Regions from separate parts of the Homo sapiens genome. Here region 1 is linked to region 2. The links come from fine-mapping of genetic effects on gene expression. A gene starts in region 2. The other region holds a variant in brackets. All regions are shown on one strand. Distances are from middle to middle. Region 1 overlaps LOC105371082 (a long non-coding RNA gene). Region 2 holds the start of RMI2 (RecQ mediated genome instability 2).

Region 1 (5,377 bases), 25 kb before region 2:
CACAGCTGGAAGGAGGCAGGGCGGGAATTCATAATTGTTTTTTGGTTTTTTTTTTTTTTTTTGGAGATGGAGTCTTGCTCTGTCTCCCAGGCTGGAGTGCAGTGGCGCGATCTCATCTCACTGCAAGCTCCGCCTCGCGGGTTCACGCCATTCTCCTGCCTCAGCCTGCCAAGTAGCTGGGATTACAGGCGCCCGCCACCACACCTGGCTAATTTTTTTTGTATTTTTTAGTAGAGACGGGGTTTCACCGTGTTAGCCAGGATGGTCTCGATCTCCTGACCTCGTGATCCGCCCGCCTCGGCCTCCCAATCATAATTGTTTTTGAGTGTTCAAAAGATACTTTTTATTTGCCTGTTTTCAAAAAATATTTCTCCCTTACTTTAGACAATTAGTAAAAGTTACAGGAGCCAACAAAAGGTGGAGAGAGCGTATCATTCAAGGCCTTTTCAAAAAACATATCAATCTGAAGAATGATAAAAAGAATATGGAATTCAAAAATTTTAAAAACTCCTTGCATTAAAAATAAGTCAGTATTTGTAATAAAATCTTGTTTCTGGCTGGGCGTGGTGGCTCATGCCTGTAATCCCAGCACTTTGGGAGGCCAAGGTGGGCAGATCACTTGAGGTCAGGAGTTCGAGACCAGCCTGGCCAACATGGTGAAACCCCGTTTCTACTAAAAATACAAAAATTTGCTGAGTGTGATGGCACATGCCTATAATGCCAGCTACTCAGGAGGCTGAGGCAGGAGAATCACTTGAACCCGGGAGGCTGAGGTTTTAGTGAGCTGAGATTGTGTCACTGCACTCCAGCCTGGGTGACACAGCAAGACTCTGTCTAAAGAATAAAAAAAAAATTAAAAAAAAATCTTGTTTTAACCAATTATTTAGTTTTGTATTAGTGTATTTTTTAATATTAAAGATGCATCTCTAGAAAGATTATTATAATTTTTAATTATAGCCAGCTGAATTATACAACTCCTTTAAAAATTCCTTTTACTGGGGAGGGATAGCATTAGGAGATGTACCTAATGTAAATGATGAGTTAATGGGTGCAGCACACCAACATGGCACATGTATACATGTGTAACAAACCTGCACGTTGTGCACATGTACCCTAGAACTTAAAGTATAATAAAAAAGATTCCTTTTACTAACCTTATTATGACTTACATAGACCATTCACAATGTATTTTTTTTTTTTTTTTTTTGAGACAGGGTCTCACGCTCTCACTCAGGCTGGAGCCCAGCGGCATGATCATAGCTCACTACAGCCTCAACCTCCCTGACTCAAGCAATTCTCCCTCCTCAGCCTCCTGAGTAGCTGAGACTACAGGCACGCACCACCACACCTGGCTAATTTTTTATTTTTTGTAGAGTCAAGGCTCACTATGTTTCTGAGACTGGTCTGTAACTCCTGGACTCAAGTGATCCTCCTGCATCAGCCTCTCAAAGTGCTAGGATTACAGGTGTGAGCCACCGTGGCTGGCCCAGGGCTGGAATTCTGACCCAAGCCCTCATCTCACAGGCTGCAGAACTGAGCTCACATTCCATTGTGGGGGAGACAAGTGATGAACAAATAAATAAGATTAATTTAGGCAGAATGATGTTTTGGAGGAAGTTAAATGATTAGATGATGTAACAGAGGATGATAGCAAAGGGGTGGAATCTAGACCAGCCAGATGGTTGGGGGTAGTGGGGTCTCTTGGCAGAAGCCGTGTTTGAACTAAGATGGGGAGGAAGAGGAGGAAGAGCCAGATGTGTGAATGTCAGAGGGAACAGTGTCCTGGGTGCAGTGACGGCACGTGCAAAGGCCCTGGGGTGAACTTAGCCTGGCGTGCGGAGGAACAGAAAGGCCTGCGTGGCCGGAGCTCTGTGAGTGATGAGGATGGAGGAGCTGGGGCTGGAAAAGTAGGCAGGGGCCTGGCAGGTCACGTGGGGAGGAGTTTGGGTTTATTCTGAAGGTGGGAGGAAGCCACCAGGAAGGACTGAAGCAGGAGGTTAACCAGATTTTTGGGAGCCACAGCCTTACCTTTCCTCAGCCCTGGTCAGGTTGGGGTGGGTGCCTTGGAGAATGGTTATGGGAGTGTCCTGAGGCCCCGAAGCCTGGAACTGTCCCAGACTTTGAGGTTCCCCATACCTGGGATCGCATTCTTGCTCTGCCACTTAATGGCTTGGTGATCTTGGGCCTATAGCTTCAGTTCTCTGGGGCTTAGTTTCCTCTGCTGTAAAAATGGGGATGTCAGCCAGGGGCAGTGGCTCATGCCTGTCATTCCAATGCTTTGGGAGACTGAGGTGGGAGGAATGCTTGAGCCCAGGAGTTGGAGACCAGCCTGGGAAACACAGAGAGCCCCGACTCTACAATATATGTATATTTTTTTAATTAGGCAGGAGTGGTGGCACACGCCTGTAGTCCCAGCTACTCTGGAGGCTGAGGTGGGAGGATTGCCTGAGCCCGGGAGGTCGAGGCTGCAGTGAGCTGTGGTGGTGCCATCCTCCCTTTGCAGAGCAGGCCTTGAATGAATACCAAGCCCTTGGCACAGAGCCAACAACCATGAATGGCGCCTGGTATTTCTGCAGTTGTTGCTGTGAGCATCCCTGCAGCACCTTCTCAGACCCAAGGTCGGTCGTGTTCTGGCTCCCTGGGGGTCCCCACTGCCCAGGGGAGGCTCTGAGGAATTGCAGGAGCCTGGGGATGGCCCAGCTCCCAGAGCACCCCATTCCTGTTTCCTTGCCAGGGCCAGCTCAGCAAGATTTCCATGGACATCAAGTGTTCTTTCCTGTGGGGGCAGTGCAAGGAGGGTCCAAAGAGCAAGCTCCTGTGCCCCCGGGGGTGGGGGTGGGTCAGGGAGCCTCAGTTTACCCACTTGTGAAAGGGCCATAGTAACCTCAGACCTCTTCAGCACTGGTTCCCTGATTTGAGGATTTCAAAGATCAGCAGACTTAAAAATATAAACATAGAGGCAGGGGTTCCCAAACCCCTGGCCACAGACCAGTACT[C/A]ATCTGTGGCCTGTTAGGAACCGGGCTGCACAGCAGGAGGTGAGCAGCAGGTGAGTGAGTGAAGCTTCATCTGTGTTACAGCCACTCCCCATTGTTCGCATTACTGCCTGAGCTCCGCCTCCTGTCAGATCGGCAGCAGCATTAGAGTCTCATACGAATGCAAACCTCATTGTGAACTGCGCGTGCGAGGGATCTAGGTTGCGTGCCCCTTATGAGAATCTAATGCCTGCTGATCTGTCACTGTCTGCCATCGTCCCCAGAAGGGACCATCTAGTTGCAGGAAAACAAGCTCAGGGCTCCCACTGCTTCTACATTATGGTGAACTGTATAATTATTTCATTATATATTATAATGTCATAACAGAAATAAAGTGCACAATAAGTGTAATGTGCTTGAATCATCCTGAAACCATCCCTTACCCACTAGTCCATGGAAAAATTGTCTTCTATAAAACCGGTCCCTGGGCCAGGTGCGGTGGCTCACGCCTGTAATCCCCGCACTTTGGGAGGCCAAGGTGGGTGGATCACCTGAGGTCAGGAGTTTGAGACCAGCCTGTCCAACATGGTGAAGCCGCATCTCTACTAAAAATACAAAAATTAGCTGGGCGTGATGGCGGGCACCTGTAATCCCAGCTACTCCAGAGGCTGAGGCAGGAGAATCACTTGAACCTGGGAGGTGGAGGTTGCAGTGAGCCAAGATCGTGCCACTGCACTGTAGCCTGGATGACACAGGGAGACTCCATCTCAAAAAAAAAAAGAAAAAAAAAAAAAGAAAAGAAACTGGTCCCTGGTGCCAAAAAGGTTGGGGACTGCGGTATGGAGGGATTGGTAGAGTTAACTACCAATTTAAAAAATTCGCCAAACATGGAGTTGCAAAGAAATCAAATACTATCTATGGTTTTCATCCCTTCCTAAAAGAAAAGATAATTAGCTGGTGCACGTGTGTTAGCTCCTATCGTCAGATGGAAGCTGGTCCCTGAAATGCCAAGTGCTGCTCTGGATGCTTAAGAACTCATTGAGAGATGCATGCCCGGGGACAGGAAGTAGCCATGCAACTGTGAGGTGGCAGATCTGGGATTCAAGTCCTCAGGGGCCGGCTCCCCCATCTGTACTTTGCATCCCTAAGGCCAGTGGTCCTCAAACATCAGTAGGCACCAGTGCCACCTGCAGCACCCACCTGGAGCTCCAGTAGCCGGGGTGGGCCTGAGAATGGTCATTCCTCACCTGTCCCCAGGTGGTGCCAGTGCTGCTGGCCCCAGGCCACCCTTCAAGAACTGCTCCTCATGGGGGCTGAGCAGGGTGGATCTGCTTGTAATCCCAGCACCTTGGGAGGCCGAGGCTGGAGGATCTCTTGAGGCTAGGAGTTCAAGACCATCCTGGACAACACAGCGAGCCCTCATCTCTAAAAGAAAAAAATACACACATGCAAACATACATATGTGCATACACATGTGCAAACACACACACCTAATGCACATACACATACATGCATATATACATGCATACATACACATACATACACGTACATACACTTACATGCATACACGCCTGCATATACACATGCACGCACACATGCATGCATATACACATGCATGCATACACAGACATGCATACACACATGCATATACACATACATGCTACACATACACATGCATATGCATATACATGCATAAACATACACATGTATAAACTCATACATGTATACGCACATGCATGCACACATACATGCATACACAAATGCATGCACACATAGTTGTATACACATACATGCATACACGTTTACATGCATACACATACATGCATACACATACATACACATGCACATGCATATGCACATGTACATATGCATACATACACACATGCTTATACGCGTACACGTATACACATACATACGCACATGCATACACACCTACATGCACACGTACATGCATTCCACCACTCTCTGCTCTCCTATGCCCCAGATGGGCTTCTGCTTTATGAAAAACCTATTCACTTGTTCTGGTTTCTCTTTTTCCTTTGAAGATGTCAGGGAGCAAACCCATTCTGGGACCCATCACATGAGACCTTCGATTGGGGCTAGGACACCAGGTCTGGGGCTCCCCCACTTCCAGGGCTGTGTTCTCATCTGACAAGATGGTGACCTCCACTGTCTCCCTCCAGGAGGCCAAAAATGTGAGGAGGGGAATCCAGAGAGATGCTTGGTGAGGAATTTTCCGGAAGATGGCCAGTTCCCTCAGGCAGTGTTAGCACTTACTGAGGGTCCGGGGTGTCCAGACATGATTTTCCCTTTGTTTTTTTTTGGTTTTTTTTTTTTTTTTTTTTTTGAGATGGAGTTTCATTCTTGTTGCCTAGGATGGAGTAAATGGTGTGACTTGGCTGGCT
Region 2 (5,334 bases):
ATCATCTGTAAAATGGGGATAAGACATGAGGTTATGTAGAGCCAGACTCATCTATCCCCAGTCCTCCATTTCTACTCTGTGTCCCAGCCATCCTTAACTACTGGCAGTTTGCTACATGCTTCTTGCTTTGTCTCCCCTGTCTGGCCCCTCCATGTGCAGTTCCCTCTGCCTGGAATGCTCACATGCCAGATGTGTGGATTACACCATCAAGGTGTTATAAACCCGGTGCTGACATGCTAAGACTTGTGTTTTGAAAAGATCACTCTGCCAGCAACATGGTGTTGGGCTTGTGGGAGCAGGTGCAGGGAATCTGGAGGCCAAGGGAATGATGGGGGATTCCCAGGCTCATACAAGAAGCCTGGGGGCTTCTCCCTTCACGCTAACTCCCTTCTCCGTCACTTCTCTGTCCTTAAGGTACCTCGGGGGAAGGTCAGTGAGGACCCACCAGGCATGAACGGGTTGGATTCTCTCTTGGTTAATGTTCCTGCTCCTTTCTCAGCCTAGGAGCCTGGTTACTTCATAGGTCAGGGTTGAGGTGTTGTATTAGTCTGTTCTCACACTGCTATAAAGAACTGTCCAAGACTGGGTAATTTATAAAGGAAAGAGGTTTAATTAACTCCAGTTCCGCAGGGCTGGGAGGCCTCAGGAAACTTACAATCATGGCAGAAAGGGAAGCAAACGTCCTTCTTTATGTGGCAGCAGGAAGAAGTAGTGCCGAGCAAAGGGGGAAAAGCACCTTATAAAACCATCAGATCTTGTGAGAACTCACTCACTATCACGAGAACAGCATGGGAGTATCCGCCCCCATGATTCAATTACCTACCACGGGGTCCTTCCCACGATATGTGGGGATTATGGGAAGTACAATTCAACATGAGATTTGGGTGGGGACACAGCCAAACCATATTAGGTGTAGAGGCCAAAACCTCATAGAGGCTACTGAGAGTCTATGGGCCAGCCCTCTAGCTTCCTTAAGCCTCAGTTTCCTCACCTGTGTGGAACAGTCTTTTCAGGGTCTGTGGGGGTACATGGGATACTTCCTACAAAGTTCTTACAATAGGACCTGGCTCAATTTTATAAAAATGAAGCTCTTGGCCGGGTGCGGTGGCTGACGCCTGTAATCCCAGCACTTTGGGAGGCTGAGCGGGCAGATCACGAGGTCAGGAGTTTGAGACTAGCCTGGCCAGTATGACGAAACCCCGTCTCTACTAAAAAATACAAAAATTAGCCAGGCGGGTGGCGTGTACCTGTAGTCCCAGCTACTCAGGAGGCTGAGGCAGGAGAATCACTTGAACCTGGGAGGCGGAGGTTGCAGTGAGCTGAGATGGCACAACTGCACTCCTGCCTGGGTGACACAGCGAGACTCCGTCTCAAAAAAAAAAAAAAAAAAAAATCAAGCTCTTGCTGAATACTCTCTGAATGCCTGGTACTGCAGGAGGCCCTGGGAACTCAAAGTTTCTCTTAAGAACTGACCTTGACTTTAAGGATTGCCTGATTTAGGATCTGTGGACTTTGCTGACTGGGGACATCCAATTTTTAGGGAGAGATTCCTGGGAATTTTATTTGAAGGATGCACAAAAAGATTTAGCTTTTACGGGTGGATCACGAGGTCAGGAGATCGAGACCATCCTGGCTAACACGGTGAAACCTCGTCTCTACTAAAACAAAGTACAAAAAATTAGCTGGGCGTGGTGGCAGGCACCTGTAGTCTCAGCTACTCGGGAGGCTGAGGCAGGAGAATGGCGGGAACCTGGGAGGCGGAGCTTGTAGTGAGCCCAGATGGCGCCACTGCACTCCAGCCTGGGTGACAGAGTGAGACTCCGTCTCAAAAAAATAAATAAATAAATAAATAAAAAAGATTTATCTTTTAAGTAGGTCCACAGTGGATATATTTATAAAGTGAAAAATTGGAAATAGCCTTAATGTCCAACTGTAGGATATTGGTTTAATATGTGATAAGACAAATCGAGTATTATGCAGTCATTCAAGAGGAAGCAGATGGATATTTGCTGATACAGAAAGATGTTCATTATTAAGTGAAAACAATATACAAAACACTATTTGTATATCAGTAATAGGCCAGGCATGGTGGCTCACGCCTGTAATCCCAGCACTTTGGGAGGCCAAGGAGGCAGGATTGCGTGATCCCAGGAGTTCCAGACCACCTTGGGCAACATGGTAAGACCCTGTCTCTACAAAAAATACAAAAATTAGCTGGACGTGGTGGTGCACGCCTGTAGTCCGAGATACTTGGGAGGCTGAGGTAGGAGAATCACCTATGCCCGGGAGGTGAACGTTGTAGTGAGCCGTCACTGTGCCACTGCACTCCATCCTGGGCAACAGAGTGAGACCCTGTCTCAAAAAAAATACACACACATATTTTAAAGCCTAAAGGCTAATATACCCCAAAATTAACAGTGGGTATCTATAAGCGGCTTTTACAATTATTTTCTTGTTCTACATTTTTCCCCTATTTTTTTTACAATAAATGTGCATTTCTTGTCTGAAAAATAGCAATATATTTTATTAACCTTAAAATTATTTGATGCTATTAAAATATAACTGAAAATAATAATAAAAGAAAAGGCAAGTTTGCCAGCTCTCCCCGTCTCCCTCCCCAGCCTTATCTCCTGACTGGATTCTTGCTCACTCCCAATAAACACGGACTCTTAATTCGTTTCAGTATTTACTAACCTCAAAACAAGGCAATGTAAAGATGAATAATCATACTCTGTAGGTGATCTGCATCCACGCCAAATTTTGAGATGCGTTGAAAGAGGAAGTTCTTTACCTCTCTGCCTTCAATTATTTATTCTCGTTTAACCCATTTCCTCCGTTCATTCCTAACTTGAGGGCGTTTATTTACTTTTATCTACGCATGCGCACTCCTGGCTGCTAGAGAGGGCCTCTTCGCCCGGCGGTCCCGCCTTCTGACGTCGACCATTGGCCGGCTCTGCCAGCGCGCTCCTGATTGGTGGCTGAGGGCCGGGCCCCGCTGCTTCTCAAAGTTGGCGGGAAAGCGGAGGCGGGGCGGAAGGGTGCGGCGAGGCGGAATGGCGGCGGCTGCGGACTCGTTCTCAGGCGGCCCCGCGGGGGTGCGGCTTCCGAGGTCGCCGCCACTCAAGGTGCTGGCGGAGCAGCTGCGGCGCGACGCGGAGGGCGGCCCGGGCGCGTGGCGGCTGTCACGGGCGGCGGCGGGCCGCGGGCCGCTGGACCTGGCGGCCGTGTGGATGCAGGGCAGGGTAGTGATGGCGGACCGCGGCGAGGCTCGGCTGAGGGACCCGAGCGGGGACTTCTCGGTCCGCGGCCTGGAGCGGGTGCCGCGCGGGCGGCCCTGTCTAGTCCCAGGTAATGCCCGGGCCTTACCGGGCGCCCTCTTCCCTGCTGCCCGCCGAGAAGTTGCCGAGGCCAGATTCGATCTTGTTGTTGACACTCGAACGGGGGCGGGGCGGGTCTGGCCCTCCTCCGGGCCTCTGCCCCTGCGGGTCCCCGCTTGGGTACCCTTGCTCCGGTCCCTCCTTGGTGAAGTTGATCTGATGATAAGCATCACCTGCCGTCCCTTTTACAAATACAGATTCCTGGGACTCTCCCACCCCTAGTGGGAATCTTCTGGGGAGGGACTCCGGCACCTTCGTTTGTCACAAGCCCCCTCTCCCAGTTGATATCCTTGTTTTGGGAAATACTGTCCTGGGAAACTTCTGCTCATCCTTAACGTCTCAGCTCAAATGTGCCTTTCTCAGGGAAGTCCTCCCTAGCCCCTAGGAACGGGAGACCCTCCTGTACTTCTCCTTAATTGAACTGTCTTGGGCTGTAGCTCACTCATGTTTGCCTCCTCTCTTTTTTTTTTTTTTTTTTTTTTGAGACGGAGTCTCACTCTGTCGCCCAGGATGGGGTGCAGTGGCGCGACCTCAGCTTACTGCAGCCTCCACCTCCCGAATTCAAGCGATTCTCATGCTTCAGCCTCCCGAGTAGCTGGGATTACAGGCATGTGCCACCACACCCGGCTAATTTTTGTATTTTTTAGCAGAGACTGGGTTTTGCCATGTTGGCCAGGCTGGTCTCGAACTCCTGGCCTCAAGTGATCTGCTCATCTCGGCCTCCCAAAGTGCTGGGATTACAGACATGAGCCGCTGCGCCCTGCCTGCTTCCTCTCTTAAACCACTGATGCTCAAACTTGAGCCAGCATCAGTCTCTCCTGGAGGGCTTGGTAAAGCTGGGATGGCTGGGGCTCCACCCTCAGGGTTTGTGAGTCAGGAGGTCCAGGTGGGGCTGGAAATTTGCATTTCTAACCAGCTCCCAGGTGATGCTGATGCTGCTGGTCTGGGGACCATACTTTCGACTTTTTAAATGTTTTATTTATTTGAGATAGGGGACTCACCGTGTTGCCCAGGCTGGCCCTGAGCTCAAGCAATCCTCCTGCGTCAGCCTCCTTGGGTAGCTGGGACTACAGGCCTGTACCACCACGCCTGGTTTGGGGGCCATACTTTGAGAACCACTGGGCCAGCCCAAGCTACTGGAGGGCCAGAGCTGTGTGGTCCTGACAACTGTATCCTCAGCATCTGGCCCAGTTCCTGACACATAAGTGCTCCAAGAACCAATAGTCTTGAGTGATAGGCAATGGGCATCCATCTCACTTGTTCCCTGGGATGTCAGTTGAGCACGTGTTGTACATCAGCCCCTCATGTGCAGTGTTGGGCTGCAGCCGAGACCTAGATAGAGTCTGCTGGGAGACAGGCAGTGAGCAAGTGTCGCAGAGGATCGCTGATCTTTGGGGAGCCATGAGGATGTGCAAGGTGCTGAGTGGCCCGGGGAGGCTTCTAGAGGATGTGAGGTCTAAGCTGAGGAGCTCTGAGGCTCCATGGGCCTTCCCTCACCTCAGCTCCCTCTCCTGGGAAATCAGGCCAAGATCACTTCATTCCTAAGGGCCCTTCCTGCTCAGTCTTGGAGTCTAACTAGAGGCAGATAGGGCTGTGGTCTGGCCTGAGCTGCTGTGGACTCGGAAAGGCTTAGGTCGAATTTCTGGTTCCACCCCTTCCCAACTGAGCTGCCTGGAGCACTCTTGTTAACTTTTCTGGACTTGTACTATTTTGTAAAAAGGAGCTAATCATTCCTGCGTGTTGTGTGGATTCAATAAGTAAACAACTGCCTTAGTACTGCACCTGGCTCACAGTGAGGATGCAAAATATCAGGACTCGTTTACTGCCACATGCTCCTGTTCCGTCTTCCCACTGCCTTACCCATCAGCCTTCCCTCTGTCTGCCTGCCCTCAGCCGCAGCGTTGGTCTAGGACAGGGTCAGCAAACTACAGGCCTCCTCTTTTCATGTGTCCTGCGA

Evidence for each region. PIP is the estimated chance that this variant, and not a neighbour inherited with it, causes the effect. A credible set is the group of variants that fine-mapping cannot tell apart.
Region 1: its variant is the best candidate, but not a certain one, in a credible set for the expression of RMI2 in whole blood (TOPMed, PIP 0.60).

Annotation. Positions count from the first base shown.
Region 1 is chr16:11,317,213-11,322,589 of GRCh38, forward strand. All of the region lies in intron 1 of LOC105371082 (a long non-coding RNA gene), which reads left to right. Among named protein-coding and RNA genes, the nearest start is that of MIR548H2, 13 kb to the left of the region's middle. RefSeq lists an enhancer at 3,705-4,300. The variant C/A (reference allele first, on the strand shown) is at 2,997.
Region 2 is chr16:11,342,419-11,347,752 of GRCh38, forward strand. It overlaps RMI2 (RecQ mediated genome instability 2), which reads left to right and starts at 3,041. Exons shown (of 2, transcript NM_152308.3): 1 at 3,041-3,348. The coding sequence starts at 3,054. The region is part of intron 1 of LOC105371082 (a long non-coding RNA gene); the gene reads left to right. It overlaps LOC105371083 (a long non-coding RNA gene), which reads right to left and starts at 2,794. Exons shown (of 2, transcript NR_135174.1): 1 at 2,695-2,794; 2 at 1-5. RefSeq lists silencers at 3,110-3,269, 3,290-3,369.